6 separate regions of the Homo sapiens genome follow, and all the other regions are reported to be linked to region 3. The links are microRNA targets in miRTarBase. Many come from high-throughput screens and were not tested one by one. Region 3 holds a microRNA gene; each other region holds the end of a gene's coding sequence.

Region 1 (3,664 bases), not on the chromosome of region 3:
ATAATCCCATAACATTTCCTATTTTAAAAATATAATAAAACTCCTCCTGGTCCCTTATTTGCTGCCAATGTCTATCCCATTTGTCTGTTTTCCTCTGCAGCAAAGCTCTTCAAGAATTCTCTATACTTACTGTTTCCAATTCCTCTCCCACTCTCAATCCAACTCTCATTTCCAAGACTCCACCAAAACTCTTGAAAAAGTCACCAGTGATAGCTCTTTTGCCAAATCCAAATGATTCTCAGCCCTATTACTCAACTCACAGATCATCATTCCCTCCTTAAAATACTGTTTTCATTTGGCTCCTGGGACACTGCTCCCATGTTTTTCCCCTACTTTACTGATCTCTCTGCTTCAGTCTCATTTGCTTGTCCCCCCTCATTTTCCTAACCACTAAAGTTACAGTAACACAGGGCTCAGTCCTTGGACTGTTGTTCTTCTTTACTTAGATGTCTATTAAGGCATCTCATATAAATCTCTGATTTTTTTCTCCTAAACTTCCTACAATCCTCCCCAAATCTTCCCCCCATGATCTTCCCCATATAGGAAATGGCAACTTCTTTCTTCTGCTTTCTCAGGCCACTGACAGTGGGATTATCCCTGACTCCCTACTTTCTCTCTCATGCCATCCATCAGTTAGTGGCTCTGTTTTCTAGGTTCAGAATCTAACCACTTCTTGCCTCCTCCATCATTTTAACATTCTGGTCCCAGCTACCACCTCTCAACTGGGTTATTACTATTGCCTCCGAATTGGTCTCCTTGTTTCCAGCCTTGCTCCTACAGACTCTTCTCCACACAGCATCCAGAGTGATCCCTTTAAAAAAGTAGGTCAGATCACATCAATCTGGTGAAAAAGTTTCACAGGCTGCTTGTGATAGGCTGTTTGCAAAAAGGCCACCATAATGCCCCTCTTTGTGTCCACACTCTTATGCAGACCCCACATATGCTGATTCTGGGCTTGGCTATGACATTTGCTGTGGCCAAGGGGAAAGTACAAACATGAAGCAAGCAGAGGCTTAGAAAGTCAGGGCTTGTCCTATGCTGCTGCTGGGATGCTTCCACCACTATGTGAACAAATTCATACCAGCCTCCTGGAGAATGCATGAAAACATGGAGAGAAGCCCCAACCATTCCAGCTGTCCCAGCTGAGTAAAGCCAAACTAGACACTCTAGCTGCAGATGAGCTGGTCTAGGCCAGAATAATAATATGGCCAACCCACAGAATCTTGAAAAACAATACATGTTTGTTGTTTTAAGCCACTAAATTTTGGGGTGATTTGTTATCCAGCAAAAGCTAACTGATACATTGCCCATTTTGCTCAGAATAAAAGCCAGTGTCCTAACATACCCTGCAAGGCCCCATATGATCTGGCCACCCTCATTCTGTGCCACTTCACTTATAGCCTCCCTGTTATTCCTCATATTCAGTACTGTCCTACCTCAGGGCCTTGGTACTTTCTGTCCCCTTTGCCTGGAATGTTTGTTCCTCAGATACCTGCATTGCTTACTCCCTTACCTCTGCTCAATTGACACCTTATTGGGGAGAACTTTCCTTATCACCCTAAGAAAATACCCCTGGCACTCCCTATCCATCCCCGTTATCCTGCTTTTTCTTTTTAGTTCTTCTTATCTGAAAAATACATATTTCTTGTCTGTCACAAACACATGAGACACCAGAACTTATGCTCTGCAAGGGCAGAAATCTTGTGTCTTGTTCATCACTGTATCCCCAGCACTTATAACAGTGCCTGGAATTTTTTATCACCAGTAAAATGATGAAAGTAGTAATACTTCTGCCAAATTTGGTGTCTAGGTCTATTACCTGGAATGTTTCTAGAGGCTGAGGTGGGAAAAGTGGTGACTGTGCTCCATATTGGGGCATGTTACACTTAATGCTGGCTGAATTCCTAGAGAACTGATGACCTAAAAAACATTCAAACGAATACTCAATAAGGATTCAGGTAAAGCAGCAAAACACTAGCTTGCCACTGGCCAACTCAGAGCTTTGTTCCTTTTGACCTCCCCTCCTTTCTCTTTATTCCCATCCTTTCCCCATTAGTGTGAACATCAGTTTGTCAGAACATTAGTTCACCAAATGATGGGGAAGAAACAAAAACACCAAGAAAGTATTACCAGTATAGAAATTTATTTGAATTCAAAATAATATGGCTATATTTATAATAATATAATAATTATCTAAAGCAAATATCATCATTGGCTCTGAAATGCATCTAAAGATGTCATTCTTAAGTCAAAAAATACGTAGTAAGAATGAACAAGAAAGAAAAAAATATAAAAACAAGTCTGCTGAGTGTCGGGAGTTGGTGAGGGATATCCTACCATATTGTGACGGAGTCCAAATAGAAAACATGCAGCAACAGTTCTCCTGCTTTATCAGCTCCCTGGAAAATAAACCAGTAACCCTGGTAGTGCAGTAACCATTTGGTTAACAGGACAAACTTCCTGATGGACACAGATAGTAATTCACTGCATTTCCCTTCTCTAACTTCTCTCTTCACACCAATTCCTTTTCTTTCCTTTAAGATGGGTTTCATCCTGTTGACAAAAGATTTGGTTTTATTTGTAAAGTAAAGCAGATAATATCCTGATTGAAGTATTCAATGATTTAGTTGAGGATGCTTGGGGATCAAACTTTGTAAAAAGGTCAATTAAGCTAGTTAGCAGAGACTATCAGTGGCTTGCAGAAAAAAAATTCGGATAATATGTTTGTTAAAAAGACAAAAAGAATAAGCGGTGAAAAATCCTAGGGATTACTGTGACCTAGACAATCAAAAGCAGATAGGTGACCTTTGATTAAATCCATTTACTTGTGGAGTGAGCTAAAAGGAGGCTCCAAGACAGAGTTTGGTTCCCAACAGTGTCCGTGGCCAAAGGGCACACTCAGAAGGTCTCCTCCTCTCGTAGGAACTGGAACACGGATGAGAAGTCTTTCTTTGAGTAGCCCTTTGCACACATCATCCTGTAGATCTGATGGGCCAGACTGCCAAGAAGGATTGGGCTCTTTGTGCTGGTAGCAGAGTCTTGTGCCAATCCCAGATCCTAAATCAAACAGGAGGAGAGAACACGCTGAGACTGGTGGTAAAGGCTCTTTGGAACTGTGGTTCCTTATGTTTTGGTTTGAAAGAAGGAAAAATGTAATCTGAAAAAATAAGATACTTATAAATACTATGGTAAGTTAACATTTTTAAATAAGCGCTTTCATATAACTGCAAAATTGCTCCAGACAGAAACCTTGATTTCTGAGTGTCTCTTCGATTTTTCCACCTTCCACAATACCTGTTTGTTTTGTTCCACAGATTTGAAGAAAAAAAATTTCCCTGTGTAATCTTATCTGTGGAAATCTTTAAGACATAAATTTTTTTTAAAAAATTCTTAAATGAAAACAAGGAGAAATAAAACTGCAAAACAGGAAATACAGTTGCAAATATTACTTCATCCAATAAATATTTGAAGTGTGCTGACAATGTGCCAGAAGCTGGGATAAAATGATGAGCAAAACAGCCACAGCCCACCCAAACTCACATTGTGTTAAGGAGAAAGACAATTAAATAAGCATGGTATAATTGGATAGGAGGAGTACTATCATGGGATCCAAGGAAGCAGGGTCTGGGGTGCTGGGAAAGGTGAAGAAAAAGAAGACAGTGAA
Region 2 (3,664 bases), not on the chromosome of region 3:
AACGAGGCAAGTTGGGTGTAATCTGACCCTTCCATAAGATTTTGAATCCACCCACCTCCCCCAAACAAAACAACAGCCTCGGAATATTTTTGAATAATGCAGCCGAATTCAGCATCAGCTTCATCCAAAACGGCAAACAAGCCTTTTTCCCTCGCCAAATCGGAACTCGAGCTGAATTCAGGAAAAGGGGAAGGAGAACAACCTTCCCTCGCGCTCCGCGCCTCCGCGGGGGTCCCCCGAGACCCCCAAAGCCCAGGACCTCCGCTGCGGGGAGCCTTCTCGCGCCGCCCCGCGCCGCGCTCCCCGTCTCCCAAACCTCGCGCTCCCTAGCTGCCGGCGCCGCTAGGGTTAAAAGTTACCTCTCGGTTTCTTCTGCCTGCAGCCCCCCCCCCAACCCCCGGGGGCCGGATGATGTAACCCCCCTCCCCGCCCCCCTCCACCATGTGACACTTTAATTAATAATAGCGCCGTCAGCACAACAAACGCACAACACAAGGAGAAACTTGGTGTCCAGGGGAGGCCCCCGGCGGCTGGAGCGCGGCGGCAGCGGGCGCAGAGGCCGGAGGGAGAGGAGGCGAGGGGCGGCCCGAGCGCGGGGCGGGAGCGAGGCCAGCGGTCATGTGCCCGTGCCCCCTGCACCGCGGCCGCGGCCCCCCGGCCGTGTGCGCCTGCAGCGCGGGTCGCCTGGGGCTGCGCTCGTCCGCCGCGCAGCTCACCGCCGCCCGGCTCAAGGCGCTAGGCGACGAGCTGCACCAGCGCACCATGTGGCGGCGCCGCGCGCGGAGCCGGAGGGCGCCGGCGCCCGGCGCGCTCCCCACCTACTGGCCTTGGCTGTGCGCGGCCGCGCAGGTGGCGGCGCTGGCGGCCTGGCTGCTCGGCAGGCGGAACTTGTAGGAACGCGGGGCTTCTTGGTGGGGCCGGAGCCGAGACCCAGCCGGAGCGAGCAACAGGTACGCGAGCGAGCGAGCGAGAGCCGGGGCGCGGCAGCTGGGCACTGGAGACGCTGGGCTGGCCCGGGAGCGGGAGAGTGGCAAGTTTGGCTTTCTTCTTTTCCCTTCTCCTTCTTCCTCCGTTCTCTTCTCTTGCAAGCATCTCCACCTCTCCTCTTCTACCCAGTCCCCAGTCTTCCCTTCCAAGTGTAAGGTCCACCGTTTCTGCCCCCATCTCTGCGAGTCCTTAAGCGCATCTTGCTACTCACTTATAGCTCAGTGGCTTGCGGAGGACTTCAGCCTCCATAATCCCCACCAGCCCCACAAATAAACACACAATGCAAGTAAAAAGTGTGCTTGCTATGGGAATGTAGTTGTAAGCCACGCCAAATACTTAAAATCTATCGCACTTCCAAGAAAGGTCCCCGGTCCCGTTCCAATCCTCTTGCCGTTCCTGAGTCGCCCCCGTCTCCATCACCTTTGCTCCCAACCTCTTGTCCCTAAGTGTCACTTCTCCAATCTCTGATCCCCATTATCTGGCACCCCAAGCGCATCTCGAGACTTCCTCCCCCTCCAGGTTTCTGGCTGGCCCAATCTTTCTTCCCAAGCTCCGCGCATTTGCAATTTTCCTCTGCCCTGCCAACTTCGCTCCTTCTCGAGTGAGGTGTCCTGTTTAAGGAGTTTGGCTTCCTTCTCCCCAGACGGTTGTAGCTGCTACGGGAAGGAGACGCCCTCGGAGTGGGCTGGAATAGGGGGCTTTCAGGGAAACTCCAATGGGAAGCCTTAAGGAAGGAACATTTATTGAGCTCCTTCGGGGTGCTGGGCACTGTTTAGGGAGGTCATGTGTTGAGAACTTAGGACAGGAAGTGGGTACTGAGCACCTAGTGTGGTTGGTATCAGTGGGAGGAAGGTACTAGGCTCTTGGGGTGGGGGGATCATTGTGCCCTAGCTGTGCGCCTGGCACTGTGCTAGGCGCTTTGAGGAAGCACACAGCGTAAGCATCGTCTTACTACTCTGGATCCTGGAGTAGCGAGGAGCGCTGCAGAGAATGAGGGAGAGAGAATCAGGCTGAGCCCACCATAGATGGGTCTAGGGCCGGAAGGTGAAGCTCGAAGGTGACATAGCCAGCCGCCCTTAGGTCCCCGCCCCCGAGCCCCGCCGCGCGCCGCAGACACCCTGGGAAGTTGGAGCGGCGCCTGAAGGCGAGGCCCGAGCGTCTGCGCCCGCGGGGAAAGGCGGCAGCCGGAGCGTGGGGGGTGGCAGCGCCCAGGGAGCTGCGGGGGTGCGCGGGGTGTGAGCCGGGACCGCAGGCGACAGATGTCGCGTGGGCCCGCGCAGCCCGGGCGCTGGCGAAGAGAAATGCGCGCTTCGGGGCGCTCTCTGCCCGGCTCCCGGGCGCCGGGGGTCCCATCCACTTCTCCCTACCTTCTCTCTCTCCTGTTGGAGAGGCCAGGGGCTCCCGCGACTGAAAGGGGCCAGGCTGAGGCTGCCCAATCCCAGGGACAGGAAGAACATTTTGGATGGATCGCGGGGTGCAGAAAAAGGAAGTTGAGCGACAGACGCGAAGCCCAAAGCGTGGAATTTGGGAAGAGGCAGAAAAAAAGTGGGCGAAGAGGAAGAGAAAAAACAAGCGACGAGATGGGGAGGGACAAGAAGTTTGGGGAGGATAGAGAAAAAGAGAAACTGCCTGGAAAACAAGTTGCAAGACAATTGAAAAGTGAATGAGAAGGAAAGAGAGGAAGGTAGTAAAATCAAATAGAACTGTGGAGAGAGGGCTGGGACACGGCTTTCTCTGGTTCTGTCGTCCAGGAGATTGGAAACGCTCTCCCCTTCCGGCACCAGGCGTGCGGGATGTCGGGTGCCCCTCCCGGGAGGCCGAGGACTCCGGGCCGGAGCCTGACTGTGTGTTCCTGTTTGCCGGTGTGTGAGTGTCGGGGTGGGAATGCTCCCGGGGCCTGGAAGGGGAGGCTGCGGGCGGGGCGGGCAGATTGCGCCGCTCTGCGCCGGAGCGCAGGGGAGGAGTTGGGTAACTGGGGCCTGCGCTGCAGGGGAGGGCGGCGGCCAGGAGTTTCGCTGTTTTGAGTCGGTGTTGGGGGGCAGCAGCAGGTTATTGTCTCTGTGGAGTTTATTTCCCCCGCCCCGCCCTCGCCTTCTACCCCAGAGTTACTTCCGTGCTGCGCCCTGACTCGGAGACACCCTCTTCCCACACCTCTGGGTTCTTCTCCTACCTGCCTTGTCCCGCCCGGGCGTCCCCTGCAGCCACACCCTCCAGGGTTCTGCAGCCTCTGGCGCCCTGACCTCAGGATGCCCCGCTCGGCTTCCCAGCAGCACCGCCCCTCATACCCTCGGGACACCCGTAGAATTGCTCACCACCCGCCTTCCTGCGCTCCCAGGCCGGGTTCTCAGTGCTCGGGCTCCCTGCACTGGCCCTGATCAAGTTCTCTCCCTGCAGCCTACATCTGACCTCAGAATACCAGCCGCTCCGGCCTTTCTTGTGCTTTTGATTTAATTTGGGGAAACTCATTTTTTCCCAGCTCTGGTAAGTTAAGTAAAGGGGAAAGAAAAATCACCGGAGGAAGACAGTCTGTTGCGTTCTATGCTGGATATGGGGTGCTCTCCACCTTCCCTACCCTAAAAGAAAAAGGGGAATGTTCACAGCTGTACCTTAGGTGTTTGAGGGAGGCCTGTGCCAGCCATATAGGGTGGGAACTACCACTTTCAATTCCCATAGGTTT
Region 3 (3,664 bases):
GGCCTGGCATAGTGGTTCATGCCTATAACCCCAGTATTTTGGGAGGCCGAGGCGGAAGGATCACTTGAGCCCAGGAGTTTGAGACCATCCTGGGCAACATGGCAAGAACCCATCTCTATAAAAACAACAACAACAAAACAACAAGAAGTCAGTAGATCTTAAAGCACTAGATCTTAAACCCTGTGATGGGCAATTTCCTTGTCAATTTAGCGAGGCTGTGATACCCATGATTCAACCAAACGCTTGCCTGGGTGCTACTGTGAGGTGCGTTGTACATGTGGTCAGCACTGATGATCACTGGCTGTAAGTCAAAGGTTCTCCTCTGCGAGGTGGGTGGGCCTCATGCAATCGGTTGAAAGGCCTCAAGAGCAGAACCGAGGTTTCCCTGAAGAAGAAGAAATCCTGCCTGGGGACTGCAGTGTCAGCTCCTCCGGGGAGCTTCCGGCCTGCTGGCCTGCCCTCTGGATTTCAGACTTGCCTAGCCAGCCCCCACAATCACGTAAGCCGATTCCTTGAAATAAACTTAATCTATATCTCCTTCTGGTTCTGATTCTCTGGCAGAACTCTGATCCTCTCCCTAAACGGTGCCCGGGACGGGGGAGGAGTTGGCGCTACTTCATTGCTTCCCTTTCACGCAGACATGCTGACTTTTCAACCACTGTCCTTTTCGAATTTTTTCTCTTCCAGGGAAGTGCTGACTCTTTTTCTCCTTGTCAATTAGTCCTTTTGGAATCTGTTACTGGTCTCAGCCTTCTCCTCCATCCTCTCTCTTTCATTATTTTTATTTTCATTTTGTAGAGACAGTTGCTGAAGGTGGTGGTCTGGCTATGTTAACCAGGCTGGTTTTGAACTTCTCGCCTCAAGTGATCCTCCTGTCTTGGCCTCCAAAATTGCTGGGATTACAGGTGTGAGCCATCACCCAATTTTTATTTTTAGAGACGGGGTCTCACCCTGTCACCCAGACTGGCGCAATCACAGCTCCCTGCAGCCTCAACCCCTGGGCTCAAGCGATCCTCCTGCCCTGGCCTCTCCAGTAGCTAGGACTACAGGCACGCATGTCACCATGCCTGGCTAATTTTTAAAATTTTTTTGTAGAGATGGAGTCTTGCTAGTTGCCTGGGCTGGTCTTGAACTCCTGGCCTGAAGCGATCCTCCCACCTCGGCCTCCTGCATCCTTTCTTTCCTCCCCACATTTCCTTCTTATCAACAGGTGCTGGGGAGAGGCAGGACAGGCCTGTCCCCCGAGTCCCCTCCGGATGCCGTGGACCGGCCAGCTGTGAGTGTTTCTTTGGCAGTGTCTTAGCTGGTTGTTGTGAGCAATAGTAAGGAAGCAATCAGCAAGTATACTGCCCTAGAAGTGCTGCACGTTGTGGGGCCCAAGAGGGAAGATGAAGCGAGAGATGCCCAGACCAGTGGGAGACGCCAGGACTTCGGAAGCTCTTCTGCGCCACGGTGGGTGGTGAGGGCGGCTGGGAAAGTGAGCTCCAGGGCCCCAGGAGCAGCCTGCTCGTGGGTGCGGAAGGAAAAAGGCACAGGGGCTTGGTGTGGGCGGCTTTTGGCTGGGAGAAGTTTGCACGTAGGGAGAATAGTAGCCAGTGTTTGCAGAGCACTTACTATGCAGGAAGGCCTGTCCTAAGTATTGTAAGTGTATTACATCATGTACAAGTGTCTGTGATTAACCCCGTCTTGCAGAGAAGGAAACAAAAGTACAAACAGAAAATGTAACTAAGCATGCAATTAATAAAAAGGGACCAGGTTTTGAACGCGAGCAATCTGGCTCAAGAATCTGCGCCCAACCACCGGCTCCTGTTCTTAGAGATGAACGTGGAGTCCTGGAGACTGCTCAACATTGTGACTTGACTGTGAGCGTACGCGCTCCCTGTCCCCAGGAGACAGATTTCCAGTGCAATCATAGAAAGTGCCTGTGTGGGCTTCGGGAGATGTGTCTGCCTTGGGGAGAATTTTCCTTTTCAGCTAGAGCCAGGCCCAGGATGTTGACGTCAGTGAGACGCTGGTGACGTTCTCTGCTCCAGTGGCTGATGAGAAAAGTTCCTCCAAGCCAGCTCAGTTGAGAAGAATTAAGTTCTCTGGGTCCCACTGGCTTCACCTACAGATGCCAACTTTGAGGCCAGTGAACTGTGAGGCCAGCTGGGCTGATTGCCATGGCAACAGGAATTGGACCAAAGTCACCGGAGGATGGAGAGGGAAGACACAGTGGTGGCTTCCCCAGGTCTTGGACCACAAGGCACAGCCGTGGCCTCCAGGAACCCTGAGATAACCCGTTAGTGGGTCCTGCACTCCAACAGAGCTCATGCAATCAGCCTCTGGTCCTCACCCTCCTCCCATTGGTGTCGTTGTGCTCTCTAACATTGACATTGAGCAGTGAGTGCTCCAGATCTTGTTCCACTGATTTTTTCCACTGTTCTCCAGTCTAGCACTTTCTGAAATTCATCCAAGCCTAAGAGGTGACGCCAAACGTAAGTGTCTTACACCTCGGACCCCATGGACTAAGACAAGCCTCTGGGGTCCATGTGGCACCAAGGATGGGGCCTTCTAGTACCTTTCACACAGGCCAGGGACAGCACCTGCTGCGACCCCCACCCCCAGCCTCTGCTGCTTCTCCCGTTGCCCTTCCAGCCACTGCCCTGGGCACCTCCCCTGCTCCCGCCTCCCTGCCTGGGCCCATCTTTCTTTGCACCTCACCAATTGCGGGGCTTCCTAGTGCTGGAGGGGAAGGGAGCCTGCTTCCATTCTCACCACTCTGAAAGAAGACCCTGCAGAGAGGTTTTCTGGAATTTGGAGCCTAACCTTGGCCTTGACACAGTCCAGATGAGAAGGCCGTCCCCCAGTTAAGCCAGCCCTCCCTCCCTCTCAATGCTGGAGAGGAAACCAGGCAGCTGGTTGCTTCAGCAAACCCCCTCCCTATGGGAATTGTCCTTTTCTTCCTCAAATAGACTGGAGTGCAGAGGACTTGCTTCAGAGAGAGCCCCTTTGTAACGCACATTGCACGGGCCGTGCCCCATGCCCACTCTGCCACAAACTCCCCTCAGCTGCCCAGCCCCGTGGAGCCAGGCGTGGGCTGAAGTGGGGCCAATGAAATGCCTGGAATGCCAGCCGCAGTGACAGGCCAGCACTCAGATGCCTCTCGGGAGTTCTGACCGAAGCAGCACTGAGGACTGCTTCAGAGCAGAAGTCTACGCCATTTTCCCCAGTTCTAGGCAGAAGTAAAGAATGTCTCTACCTTCTCCCAACCAGCAATTGATTCAGAGTCCTGAGCTTTTAAATTAAAGGGACCCCTCTGTTGCTTTATGCAGTAGCCAGCTTATTCATTTGAGTTCAGGTGAAATCATTTTCAAGTAACCTCTTCCTATCCAGCTTTACTTTTAGTTATGCTGACATAAAAACAATAAAAATTGTCCTCCTCAGAGTTCACCTGTAAAAGTTCCTGGATAATTAGTAAGGAAACAGAAAGAGCAGATAGTTGTTGCTTCAGATAAAAGTGATGTCTGGGTTGGGCACGGTGGCGCATGCCTGTAATCCCAGCACTTGGGGAGGCCCAGGTGGATGGATCCCTTGAGCTCAGGAGTTTCAGACCAGCCTGGGCAACATCTCTACAAAAAATACAAAAATTAGCCAGGCATAGTGGCAGGACTGTAGTCCCAGC
Region 4 (3,650 bases), not on the chromosome of region 3:
CATAGATGCTTGGAGCCTCCATATGGGTGGACAAACCCTGGTGTCCAGGACTGACTTTCAATGGATTGCAGCGAGGGAGCTGTTCTGCTGCTTAGGAAACCCAGAGGCAGGTCTTACTAGCATCATTTTCCCCAGGAACCTGCATTTGGTGACGAGTGAGGGGCAGGTGTCTCTTTCTGGCAGTTCCCCTTTTCCCAGGAGGGACTCTACATCCAGATGGACCTAAGCGTAGGAGGAGGATGCTGTGCACGCAGGGTGCACCCCGCTGCCAGGTGAGGGGAATGTCTGGGACGAGATATCCAAGGTCAGTCAAGCCTCCTATGCACCGCTGTATCTTCTGCCTGCCTTAAGGTCATCCCGATGGTAGCTTTGCCTCATTCGTTACTCAGACAAGCAGACACCAAAAGCCTGAGCCTGCAGTTCCTTTGTTAGGGAGCAGGATTGCCATGGCAACAGTACATCTCCTGTAGGAGTCTAAATGTTACAGTGGTCCAAACCCAGCTCAAATGTTCCCTGTCACAGGGACTGGGAGCAAGAGTTGATTCCCTGAATGGATTTCAAAAAGCCAGCTCTTGGGTTCTTGAGAAAACAGCTCTGGGGGGTCACTTTGCATCTCAAAGGGCAAAGGATGTGTAATTGCAACCTTTTTAAAGTAACTATTCTAAGCGAGAGTCCAGGGGCCTATCTGCCTATCACCTGGTTTGGTCTGGAATAAATTTTGGTAGCATGGAGCTTTCTCAGGCAGGCATTTTAAGCGGGACTGGGGTCATGGCCTTAAGCTGCTGGTAGCCAAGCTAGAGTTTGGTCAGGTCTCTTAGTGCAGCGATTTGGATGGAGCCATTATGTGCTGAGAGGTCTGCAGTTTTCTCCCAGCTCCTTCTTTTTCTGCAAATTCAGTCTGAGTTTCCATTTTATTCTGTGGCCCTTTCCCTGCAGCCTCTTCACAGAGAAGTGGCACCACTGAATTTTAAAAAAGATGGTTAATCCTCTTTTAGCTAGTACCTACATTTTGGGGTATTAGAAAGTCTTGTTGTGATGTGCACTGCTCCTGAAACACTGAGCTGAGGAAGCTGTTCGTGATGGTTAATATTAGGTGTCAACTTGATTGCATTGAAGGATGCCTAGATAGCTGGTATTGTTTCTGGGTGTGTCTGTGAGGCTTTTGCCAGAGGAGATTAACATTTGAGTCAATGGATCGGGAGAGAAAGACCCACCCTCAAGCTGGGTAGACACCAGCGAGGGTAGAACAAAGTAGGCGGAAGGTGGGATAAGCTGACTTGCTGAGTCTTCTGGCTTTCATCTTTCTCCCGTGCTGGATGCTTCCTGCCTTTGGACATCAGACTCCAGGTTCTTTGGCCTTTGGACTCTTGGACTTACACCAGTGGTTGGTCATGGGCTCTCGGGCCTTTGGCCACAGACTGAAGGATGCACTGTTGGCCTCCCTGCTTTTGAGGCTTTTGGACTTGGACTGAGCCACTGTGGGCTTCCTTCTTCCTTGGCTCGCAGACGGCCTGCTGTGGAGCTTCACCTTCTGATCATGTCAGCTAATTCTCCTTAACAAACTCCCTTTCATATATACATCTATCCAATAGTTCGGTCCCTCTGAAGAACCCTAATAGTGTTAGAAAACCTAAAGGTGAGAGTGTTTAATTTGGGAGCTTTTAGGTGGCAGCACATCCCATCACTAAAAAAAGGATAGCTTATATATTTGTAATAAACTCATATTACACTAATAAACACTGCAAAACAAGCTAGTTGATATTTTTGAGATCAGATGTCTCTTATTTAAACCATCTTATTGATTTTAATATAGCTATAAAAAGGATCTTTATTTAGAAAAGATTTCTAAGACCTTTTATGCAGAGTAACTGCAAAACTTCTTAGCTCTTTCATTCTTAAATACTCCCTTGAAACAAATTTTATTGATGTTTGTCTTCTGTATAATTTCATGAAGAGCAAAAGGAAAATAAAATTAGCCTAATTAAAAAAAAAAATTAGCCTAATAGCTAATGTTGGCCAGCACTAACTACACTCAAGGCCCTCTCCCAAGCATTTCACGTGGAGCAACATTTCATCCTCCCAATAACCAGCAAGGGGAGGACCACTCAGCTCCGTTTTCAGACAAAGAGCTTGAGGCACACAGAAGTTACCTTGTCCACGGTCACATAGCAAGTAAGGGCAGGGCAAAGCCAGGATGCAAAGCCACACAAGGCCACCTGGCTCCAAAGCCCCTGGGTAGAAACCACTGGGCCACCCTGGCACAGCAGCAGGGACTTCCTGGAGCCAGACAGCAATGGGGAGGCTGCTCTGCCACACCTTGCCTCTCACCTCCACTTCCTGTCCTGGGCTTTTCAGCAGCCCTGAGCACCTCTCCTTCAGGGGACCATCAGTGGGAGAGGTCAGGCTCAAATTCATTTTTACATAAATGTTTTTGGTGTTAAAACTTCCCGAATGAGGCCAGGTATGGTGGCTCATGCCTGTTATACCAACACTTTGGGAGGCTGAGGTGGGATTGCTGGAGGCCAGATGTTTGAGACCCACCTGAGTAACATAGTGAGACCCTGTCTCTACATAAAATTAAAAAAAAATAGCTGAGCATGGTGGTGTATACTTGTAGTCCCAGCTACTTGGGAGGTTGGAGGCAGGAGGATTGCTTGAGGCCAGGAGTTTGAGGCTGCAGTGAGTTATGATCGTGCCACTGCACTCTAACCTGGGTGTAGAGTGAGACCTTGTTTCTAAAAAAGAGATCACCTGAATGAAAACGTCTAATATTATGTTGATATGCAATACCGACCAAAGCCTAACTATGGAAAATAAAATCTTAAGGTCATGGAAGACATATGTCTTTTAAGTAAGTATCTATATTAGTAAAATTCATTACTCAATTCAATTATGCTGGATTTTCCCCCTTGCTATATGCTTAGAAAAGAAGAAAAATGCACCCCTGTTCAAAAACTCATAAGAATTAAATTTTTAAAAACTTCAAATTTTAGGATGATTTTTATTTACAAAACAGATTGGTACTTTTGTTTTACAAAAATTACAAAAAATGACTCTTAAAAATAGAAATAGCTTCTCAGACTCTTGGGAACTACTTTTAAGCAACCAAGGAGTTAGAACTCAGATGGTTTTCTTCTTTGTAACAGCAACAATGACCACGGCTCTGTGCCATGGCAATCACTGCTGAGTGTCTTCTCCTACAATTACACAGGCCCGAGCTGTGTCTGGTGGAAAGGTCTCCACTCAGGTCAGAGTCTGAAGGAGCAAGATCTTCTCATTAATGCAGAACCTGTGCAGAACCACCATCAGATTCTCTCCACAGCGGGAGACCTGGCGCTCCATGGCCAGGCGAAAGTCCTCCTTCACGCCTTTGGTGATGCCTCGAGTTACAGTGTGGTGCCTGAGGTCAGCAATAGGGAAACAGACAAAGACCAGGGGTTAGCACCAGCATCGCTGATCGCTGCTACTTGGGTAGGAATAAAGCCTGCCCCATATCTAAGTATAATTTCAGATATTTTAAAAAGAACACAAGAATAGCTGCAACCAACCAAACATTCCAGCCCATTTCTCTTCAGAAAGACTTAAAACTAGACAGACATCTTTCTCACTCTATAAAAGGTTACTTCAAACATTTAATTGTTCAGTAAAAT
Region 5 (3,572 bases), not on the chromosome of region 3:
GCTTAAAAATGTTAATATGCTTATTATGCTTTAAAATCTAGCTATTTAAGGGCATGAATGGTTTAAAGCAAATTTTTACATCATGTCATTATGGCCCTGAAAAAAGGAGATTCTGCCAATGGAAAGGGTTTTGTTTAGCCCCAGTTAAGATTTCAACCTATTCTGTGTCAGTTTATAGTTTTTCCAGGATGTGGAAAATATTAAATGAAGAAAGCATCATTTTCTTCATTTAATAAAGTATTACATTCCCAGATAAATTAGTATATACATAGGAGAATGGTTAGTGTTAAATACTAGGTTTTAATTCTCCGTTTAGGAAACTCCTTACAGATGGACTTCCTTGTTCTCCGGCAACAAAATGTAAGACATGCAAACATGAGAGAGTACAAAGATGACAGGGAGAAAAAAAATCTCAACTCTAACAAACCTAAGGAACAATGAGTCTCTAAGAGTTGGAGTAAGAAAACATGGACTTGAAAATCCAGCTTTATCATGACATGAGTTGGCTTAAGCCAGCTGATCACATCTAAAATTCTTGGCATAATTTGAACCTAAAGTAATGAGCTCACTTCCCCAAGATGCAAAAAAGTAGTCTACCTGCTTTATAGTTACACCCTATATATAATCTGTATATATCCATATGTTTCTATATATTGCACTTAAATTTACAGGACTGTAGTAAGACGGCTGGGAGTACCTCAAAGAGGCAGAGAAGCAGCAGGCATAAACTTTCCTAAATCAAGTAAACAGTGTCAGGAATTCCGAGTGCTGGTTATAGGTATACCGAAACGCCTGATGACCCCTATCTAATTTCTAGTTATCTACACTTAGTCATTTACACACAGTCTCATTTGGCATCCAGAACATGTACACATGTGTGGTTCTATAGCACTCAGTGCTGGTCATACCATGTCATTTTTACTAGTGTTATATTAAAAGAAGACACTTTAGACCAAGGATATATACTTTTATGAAAATAAAACACACAGGTCTTCGATGTCAGGCCTCCAAGGTCTACCTCAAAGAAGACTGCCCTCAGAAGGCTTAACAAAGGATGCCAGCAAGTATGGATGGAACCAGACCACATCTCTCTTCAGCTCTCTGGTGTAGCAGGGCTAGAGACTCACTTCTATCCTAAGGACCATGAAAGTCTAAGCACAGAGGCTGAGCATTCAGTCTTTGGTCCCTGTATAAATCCAGGTCAAAAATCCTCTTGCCACCCTGGACAGCCTGGCTTGTTCAATTTAGAATATATTTCCACCAAATATCCAGAGGCCAGGCTGAAGTCATGCAGCAAAGCTCTGTTTTGGACTAATGGAGCTGCTCAGACTGACTTGCTCTGGGAGAGAACGGAGGAGCAAGCCTGGCAGTGGTGGCAGGAGGTTAAGTGCTACACAGACTGGTAATGGCAAGATGTGGGAGGATGGGCCCCTAGAGGAGCTGCTCCTTTTTCTGCCTCTCTCCCACATTCCTCACTCCCCAGAAAGGACCCACGTTCACAGGTGCGTGGTTATTATAAGACTTCCCAGAATACAGGCTCCATGAACTCAACCCATCACAGAGGGGATGGTATGATAAGGCCTAGAAATCAGGAGCATGTCTGGAGGCTACGGTTTTCTCTTTCCCAGAACTGAACACCAGATGGTAGCTTTTTAACCGTAGCTCAAAGGTCATTTTAAATCCACACATAAGCTAAAGAGATCCCTTCTGAGATGAAGGACAAAGAATAACTTTAAAAGCTAGGTGAAAAAAGAGGCACTTAAAGGAAAGATGTGTTCCAACTCTCCCATGCGAGTCTCCTGCTGTGAGTTGGCCCCGGGAGGACCAGCGCTGCCCCTTGCACGCCTTCAGCACCTTGAGTACACCTGCGGCTTACACATGCGCATGGTGAGCCTCTTGCTCAGCTCCCCTAGCAGCCAGATGGCAAAGCGAGTGAAAATTTATGTCATTCTTTTTAGAATTAAAAAAAAAACAAATCAAACAAACCAGAACTAAAATTTCACACACACAAAATGAATGCTACTCAGTTTCATTCCTTCCTCATGCTAGTTTTTAAATGATACTTGGTTCTTCAGGAAGGATGACCTGTGGCTTTACCCCCAAGACCTTGTATCCAATTACTAGACAATTATTCACAGCACCATGCACATTAAAGCAGACGGAAAAGAAGGCAACAAGCTAAGGGAAAAATCAAGGACCAACTGCCTGAGAAAATGGCAGGTACCTGGCCCAGAGATTAGAAAAGAAACAAGTTCTCAAAAGGAAATGGCCAAGATGATAGCCAAAGACCACAGCCCGAGTGGAAGCCAAGTTAACAAGCCCAGAGGATGCAGGTTTTCTCTGCCTGGCTCTTCTCTGGCCTCCCTCGGGAGCTTGTGTTCATGTTACATGGCATTTACACCACATACTTAGGGTCTACAATTCCCCATGAAGAAGTCAAAGAGATATTTAAAACCATTAATAAGCATAAGAGAGTTTCAAAACTGCCAGAATGAAGAACTTTGGCCACCACAAGTTTTTCCGTTTGAAACATTCTTGGTGCCATAATTTCTAAGAGCAACAACAAAGAGCACGACCACGACACACACGTAAGTCTTTTGACAAACCAACTCTAACCACTGCTGGCACCATGAGGATGAGAAAGAAATCACTAACCAAGAGTTGCTGGGCTGCTTAACCTTCCTTCAAAGCCAAAGGGTAGGTTTGAGTTATCTGTGCAACAAGATGGCAAGCACTGCTGCCATCAGACCCAGCTACTACTCAGTTAGACACATCTTGAAAACACTAAGTTAAACATCTAGGTTTAAGTATAACCTGCAAGATTCCCAAGGTTAGCCTTCTCAGCTTCCCCTAAATTTGTGGTTGTTGCTGTTGCTAGATGTAAAAATTTTTTAATTTCATTTTTCTTTATGTTGATGATGTTTTAATTTCTAGAATATTGTATGACATGGAACTATTCAGAATTCCTTTAAAAAGGAATCTGTCTTGATTAATAACATTATTAAGGTACTTTCAGGCTTTCCCTTAACTCCATCGAGAAGGAAGAGGGAGTATGTGAGTACATGTGCATGTAATGGGTCAGGAGGAACAGAAGCAAAGAAGGAAGCACGTGGGAAAGTGAGATGTCCATAAACTGAAAAACCAATTTACAGAAAGGCATCTGATGTATTTTCTAAATAAGGCCTTGATCAGGGTAACCAATCCTCTTTGTAGCACATTCTACACTGCCCATAAATAAAGGAGTCTCTTTAAATTAACATTTCCAGTATCAATGAACAGTCCAGAAATCCTCATTTCAAGCGTTCGATGAGTCCCTGTGTGAGTCCAAGGTGCAGAAGTTGTGTTCGGGAGAGGTTTGCAAGGTTAGGGAAGGCCGCAAGCAGCTTCTCCCATGCCAGTTCCAGCAGGCTAGGTACCACCAGCCAGATCTTAAACAATGACCCAGTCCGTTTGTTTTCATGGATGTTCACCACTCCTCCATGAATGTACATGCAACCAGCCTATGAGTAGTCAAAAGAGGACAAATTCAAACGGGAGAGAAACATACAAGGCTGAAGACTCAGTGGGGAAAA
Region 6 (3,664 bases), not on the chromosome of region 3:
CCTGGCAACAGAGCAAGACTCTGTCTCAAAAAAAAAAAAAAAAAGAAATCGTTCTCAACATCGGCTTTGGCCAAGAATTTTTGGCTAAGTCAGCAAAAACAATTGCAACGAAAACAAAAATTGCTAGGAGGGACCTAATAAACTAAAGCGCTTCTACACAGCAAAAGAAACTATCAGCAGAATAAACAACCTACAGAGTGGGAGAAAACAGTCACAAACTACACAGCTGACAAAGGCCTAATATCTAGAATCTATAAGGAACTTAAACAAATCAAGCAAAAAACAAATAACCCCATTAAAAAAATGGGCAAAGGACATGAACAGACACTTCTCAAAAGAAGACATACAAGCAGCCAACAAACATATGAAAAAATGCTCATGATCACTAATCACCAGAGAAATGCAAATCAAAACCACAATGAAATACTATCTCACACCAGTCAGAATGGTTATTACTAAAAAGTCAAAAAATAACAGATGCCGGCAAGGCTGGTGAGAAAAGGCGACACTTATATACTGCTGGTGAGAATGTAAATTAGTCCAGCCACTGTGAACAAAGGTTTGAAGGTTTCTCAAAGAACTTAAAATCGACCTACCATTTGACCCAGCAATCCCATGAGTGGGCGTATACCCAAAGGAAAATAAATCATTCTACCAAAAAGACACATGCACTCGCATGTTCATCGCTGCACTATTCACAATAGCAAAGACATGGAATCAACCTAGGTGCCCAGCAATGGTGGACTGGATAAAGGAAATGTACATACACACCATGGGGTACTACACAGCTATAGAAAAGAATGAAATCATGTCCCTTGCAACAACATGGATGCAGCTGGAGGCCATAATCCTAAGCTAATTCTTGCAGGAACAGAAAATCAAATACTACTTCTTCTCACTTATAAGTGGGAGCTAAACATTGAGCACACAGGGACATAAATATAGGAACAATAAACACTGTGGACTACTTGGTTGGGAGGAATAGAGAGAGGGAAATGGGTTGAAAACATACCTGTTGGGTACTATGCTTACTACCTCGGTGATGGGATCCATACCCCAAACCTACCACATCACACAGTATACCCATATAATGAACCTGCACATGTACCCTCAGTATCTAAAATAAAAGTTGAAATTTAAAAATTTTTAAAAAGTTACTAATGCAAAAAAAAAAAAGCGGGGGGGAAGAGGACTTGAGACATTTCTCCAAAGAAGATAAACAAATGACCAATAATAAGCACATGAAAAGATGCTCAACACCACTAAATACTAGGGAAATGCAAATCAAAACTGCAATGAGATACCAGCCATTAGGATGGTTACACTAAAAAAATACAGACAATAACAAGGGTCAGCCAGACTCAGGAGTCCACAACGGGGCCATGGTGCTAGAGACCATGTCATAGGTATGCTTTTGTACCTCTAGAAAAACAATCAGTTGCCATCTGAAGAAAAGACAGTGAGAATCAGAATATTAAAGCTCGAAGGAACTTTAAGGAAGATCGGAATGGAAAGGATCTGTAATTTAAAAAAACACTGGAAACACAGGAAGAGACAGAGCCTTGAGCAGAAGCTCCAGTACCGTGGCAAATTCAGGGGGAGCTGCTGTGGGCAGGGGACCCCTCCATTCCTCTTGTAGCACCCACATGTACCAAGTATCCTTTACCAGGTGTTCCTTGCTTGTAAATACGATGGTTGAGTTGGACCCATTGTTTTAATAGCCTCTCTGACCTTATTTTTTTATCTAAGGGACTTAGTGAGTTTGTGACCAAGGTCACAGCTTATTAATAATAACTGTTAAGTAGAACCTCAATCTTTTTCCTACTCCATTGCCTGATTCTGTAAATAGGTCACACATCAGCCAACTTCTAGTCCTCCAACCTAGGGCCAAGATTAGAATGCTTCCTAGGCAAAGTGCTGGCAGCCCTCTCTTCACTACAGAGCCCTGAGAAGCCCATTTCCACCTGCATTCCCCCAAGGGGGCTAGAGGGAAGAATGGAGGCAGAGGTGGTAGCTGGTGCTGGCTGGCAAAGCTAGGCTTCTGAGCTCACCCACAAAATTGACTTACATTTTAACATTTATTGAGTTATAAAACATGGAAAGGCAAATCCCAGGAACAGAGGGAGAAAGGGATCAGAACAGCACAGCAGGCCACGCACCACAGGGCTCACGCCGGCACTGGCCTGGTATCAAGGTGCTTCCGAGCCCCAATCCTGTCTGTGACTCAACCCCAACACAGAACCTGCCAACCAGCACACCTGGCAGAAGCCCAGCCTGGAGGAATCACAACATATACACCATGGTTAGTGGAAAGGGCCAAACACCCAAAAAGCCACCTCAGCAGACTTAAGAGACTGCTTAAAAAGAGAAAAGACTGGTGATTCTGGTGTAAGGGTCACCTTTTACGTGAAAATCAATAAGCAACATTTTACACTGTTTTTCAGTCAATGGACAACCCTTACCCTCTGCCATCCAGAGCAATCACATGGACCTCTTTCAAGCAGCCAAACCACCCCAGGGAAGGCTGGGGTGGACTCCTGCGCACTTCCCTCCCATGACCTGGCCATCAAGGCAGACCTGCCAGTGCCCCCCAGCCTCAGGAGCAGCTGGGCACCCTCAGAGCTTGGTCTGCCTTGTGCAGAAATAAGGGCAGAGTTCCAGGACGACCCATGCAAAGGAAGTCAGGGCAGGCTTCTGCACCCCCCACCTTTATTACATGATTTAAGAGGGTGAAGGAAAAAGTCAGACATGCAGTCATGTTTTACAAATAATAAATTTATTTCCAAATCCTGAATTATAACCAAATTACAATTCCCTTTAGGTCTTTTTTGCTGCTTTACACAAGGATTAAAAAAGACAGCCACAGCCAAGTCACGCATACACCAAGTGTCCTGGGCCAGTTTTAGATGCGATGGGTCCAGCCACCTCCCGCTGCCCCGGCAGCACCTCGGATACTCTGCAGCCCCGCTCCCGCCATGCCGTGCTCCTGCATGGAAGAACTCCACCTCCTCTGCCAGAGAGTCTGGTCCAGCAGGAACTGCCCTGGGGGGCCGTGATATGCACAGATGAAAGTCCTCAGATGAAAGGGCTTTGTCCGCAGCCTCAGGGCTCCCGCCAGAAGGCTGAGGACCCAATACCTGCTGCCATCCTCTCTGGGGACAGCCTCAGCTCACAGACCAAAGCGGGCTGGCGTGCGGCGAGGGGTCATGGGCTCCCCTTGCTCTTTCCGGCCTGGAGTGTAGATCTTCGTAGACCTGGAGACACAGCAGGAGAGATCAGGAAACACCGTGCCCTCACCCACAGCCAGGAGGGCAGGAGGATGCAGAGCCCCAGGACTTACTGTTCCTAACCCATGGTGGGGAGCTCTGGGCCGAGGGATCTCCTCCCCGGCACATTCTCACTCCTCTGCCGTCCCCATGTTCGACTGGCGATGTAATCAAGGAAGCTCACTCATTCCGATATGCTTTAGATCGGATTTTAACAACTCCTCCCACAGTCCCTAGGGGAGCTACAAAAGCAGCTTCCCTCCACCTCACGTGCGCCACTCCAACTGTGTAGCAGCCTGCCTTTGTCCCCAGTGCCTAGGAGCCAACTCTAAACCCTTGGAATTTCCCAAGTGACTGGAGTGTCTGCTATTCATGGGGGCCCCTCAGCCCTCGTTTGA

What was found. The annotated mature microRNA hsa-miR-34a-5p reads UGGCAGUGUCUUAGCUGGUUGU and lies in region 3 at 1,290-1,311, shown strand. An mRNA with a match to its seed (bases 2 to 7 or 8) in the 3' UTR can be bound and repressed. Matches are read on the target gene's strand: a 7mer-m8 pairs with bases 2 to 8, a 7mer-A1 pairs with bases 2 to 7 and ends in A, and an 8mer does both.
Region 1: miRTarBase lists HIBADH as a target of hsa-miR-34a-5p. The part of its 3' UTR that is shown has no 7-base or 8-base seed match.
Region 2: miRTarBase lists HRK as a target of hsa-miR-34a-5p. The part of its 3' UTR that is shown has no 7-base or 8-base seed match.
Region 4: miRTarBase lists INTS10 as a target of hsa-miR-34a-5p. The part of its 3' UTR that is shown has no 7-base or 8-base seed match.
Region 5: miRTarBase lists KLHDC10 as a target of hsa-miR-34a-5p. Seed matches in the 3' UTR shown: 8mer at 1,365-1,372.
Region 6: miRTarBase lists DHX38 as a target of hsa-miR-34a-5p. The part of its 3' UTR that is shown has no 7-base or 8-base seed match.

The regions. Positions count from the first base shown.
Region 1 is chr7:27,523,316-27,526,979 of GRCh38, forward strand. It overlaps HIBADH (3-hydroxyisobutyrate dehydrogenase), which reads right to left. Exons shown (of 8, transcript NM_152740.4): 8 at 2,127-3,057. The coding sequence ends at 2,899. Among named protein-coding and RNA genes, the nearest start is that of TSL, 91 kb to the right of the region's middle.
Region 2 is chr12:116,878,262-116,881,925 of GRCh38, reverse strand. HRK (harakiri, BCL2 interacting protein) reads left to right here and starts at 485. Exons shown (of 2, transcript NM_003806.4): 1 at 485-950. The coding sequence starts at 619. The coding sequence ends at 894. RefSeq lists an enhancer at 1-292 and silencers at 798-877, 1,756-1,956.
Region 3 is chr1:9,149,382-9,153,045 of GRCh38, reverse strand. It overlaps MIR34A (microRNA 34a), which reads left to right and starts at 1,269; the gene lies at 1,269-1,378. MIR34AHG (MIR34A host gene) reads left to right here. Exons shown (of 2, transcript NR_132742.1): 2 at 1,211-3,664. RefSeq lists a silencer at 1,224-1,460.
Region 4 is chr8:19,851,399-19,855,048 of GRCh38, reverse strand. It overlaps INTS10 (integrator complex subunit 10), which reads right to left. Exons shown (of 17, transcript NM_018142.4): 17 at 2,982-3,400. The coding sequence ends at 3,244. It overlaps LOC124901901 (a long non-coding RNA gene), which reads right to left and starts at 1,152. Exons shown (of 2, transcript XR_007060843.1): 1 at 1-1,152.
Region 5 is chr7:130,130,465-130,134,036 of GRCh38, reverse strand. It overlaps KLHDC10 (kelch domain containing 10), which reads right to left. Exons shown (of 10, transcript NM_014997.4): 10 at 1-3,500. The coding sequence ends at 3,291. Among named protein-coding and RNA genes, the nearest start is that of LINC03008, 9.5 kb to the left of the region's middle.
Region 6 is chr16:72,112,003-72,115,666 of GRCh38, reverse strand. It overlaps DHX38 (DEAH-box helicase 38), which reads right to left. Exons shown (of 27, transcript NM_014003.4): 27 at 2,755-3,254. The coding sequence ends at 3,170. Among named protein-coding and RNA genes, the nearest start is that of DHX38, 20 kb to the right of the region's middle.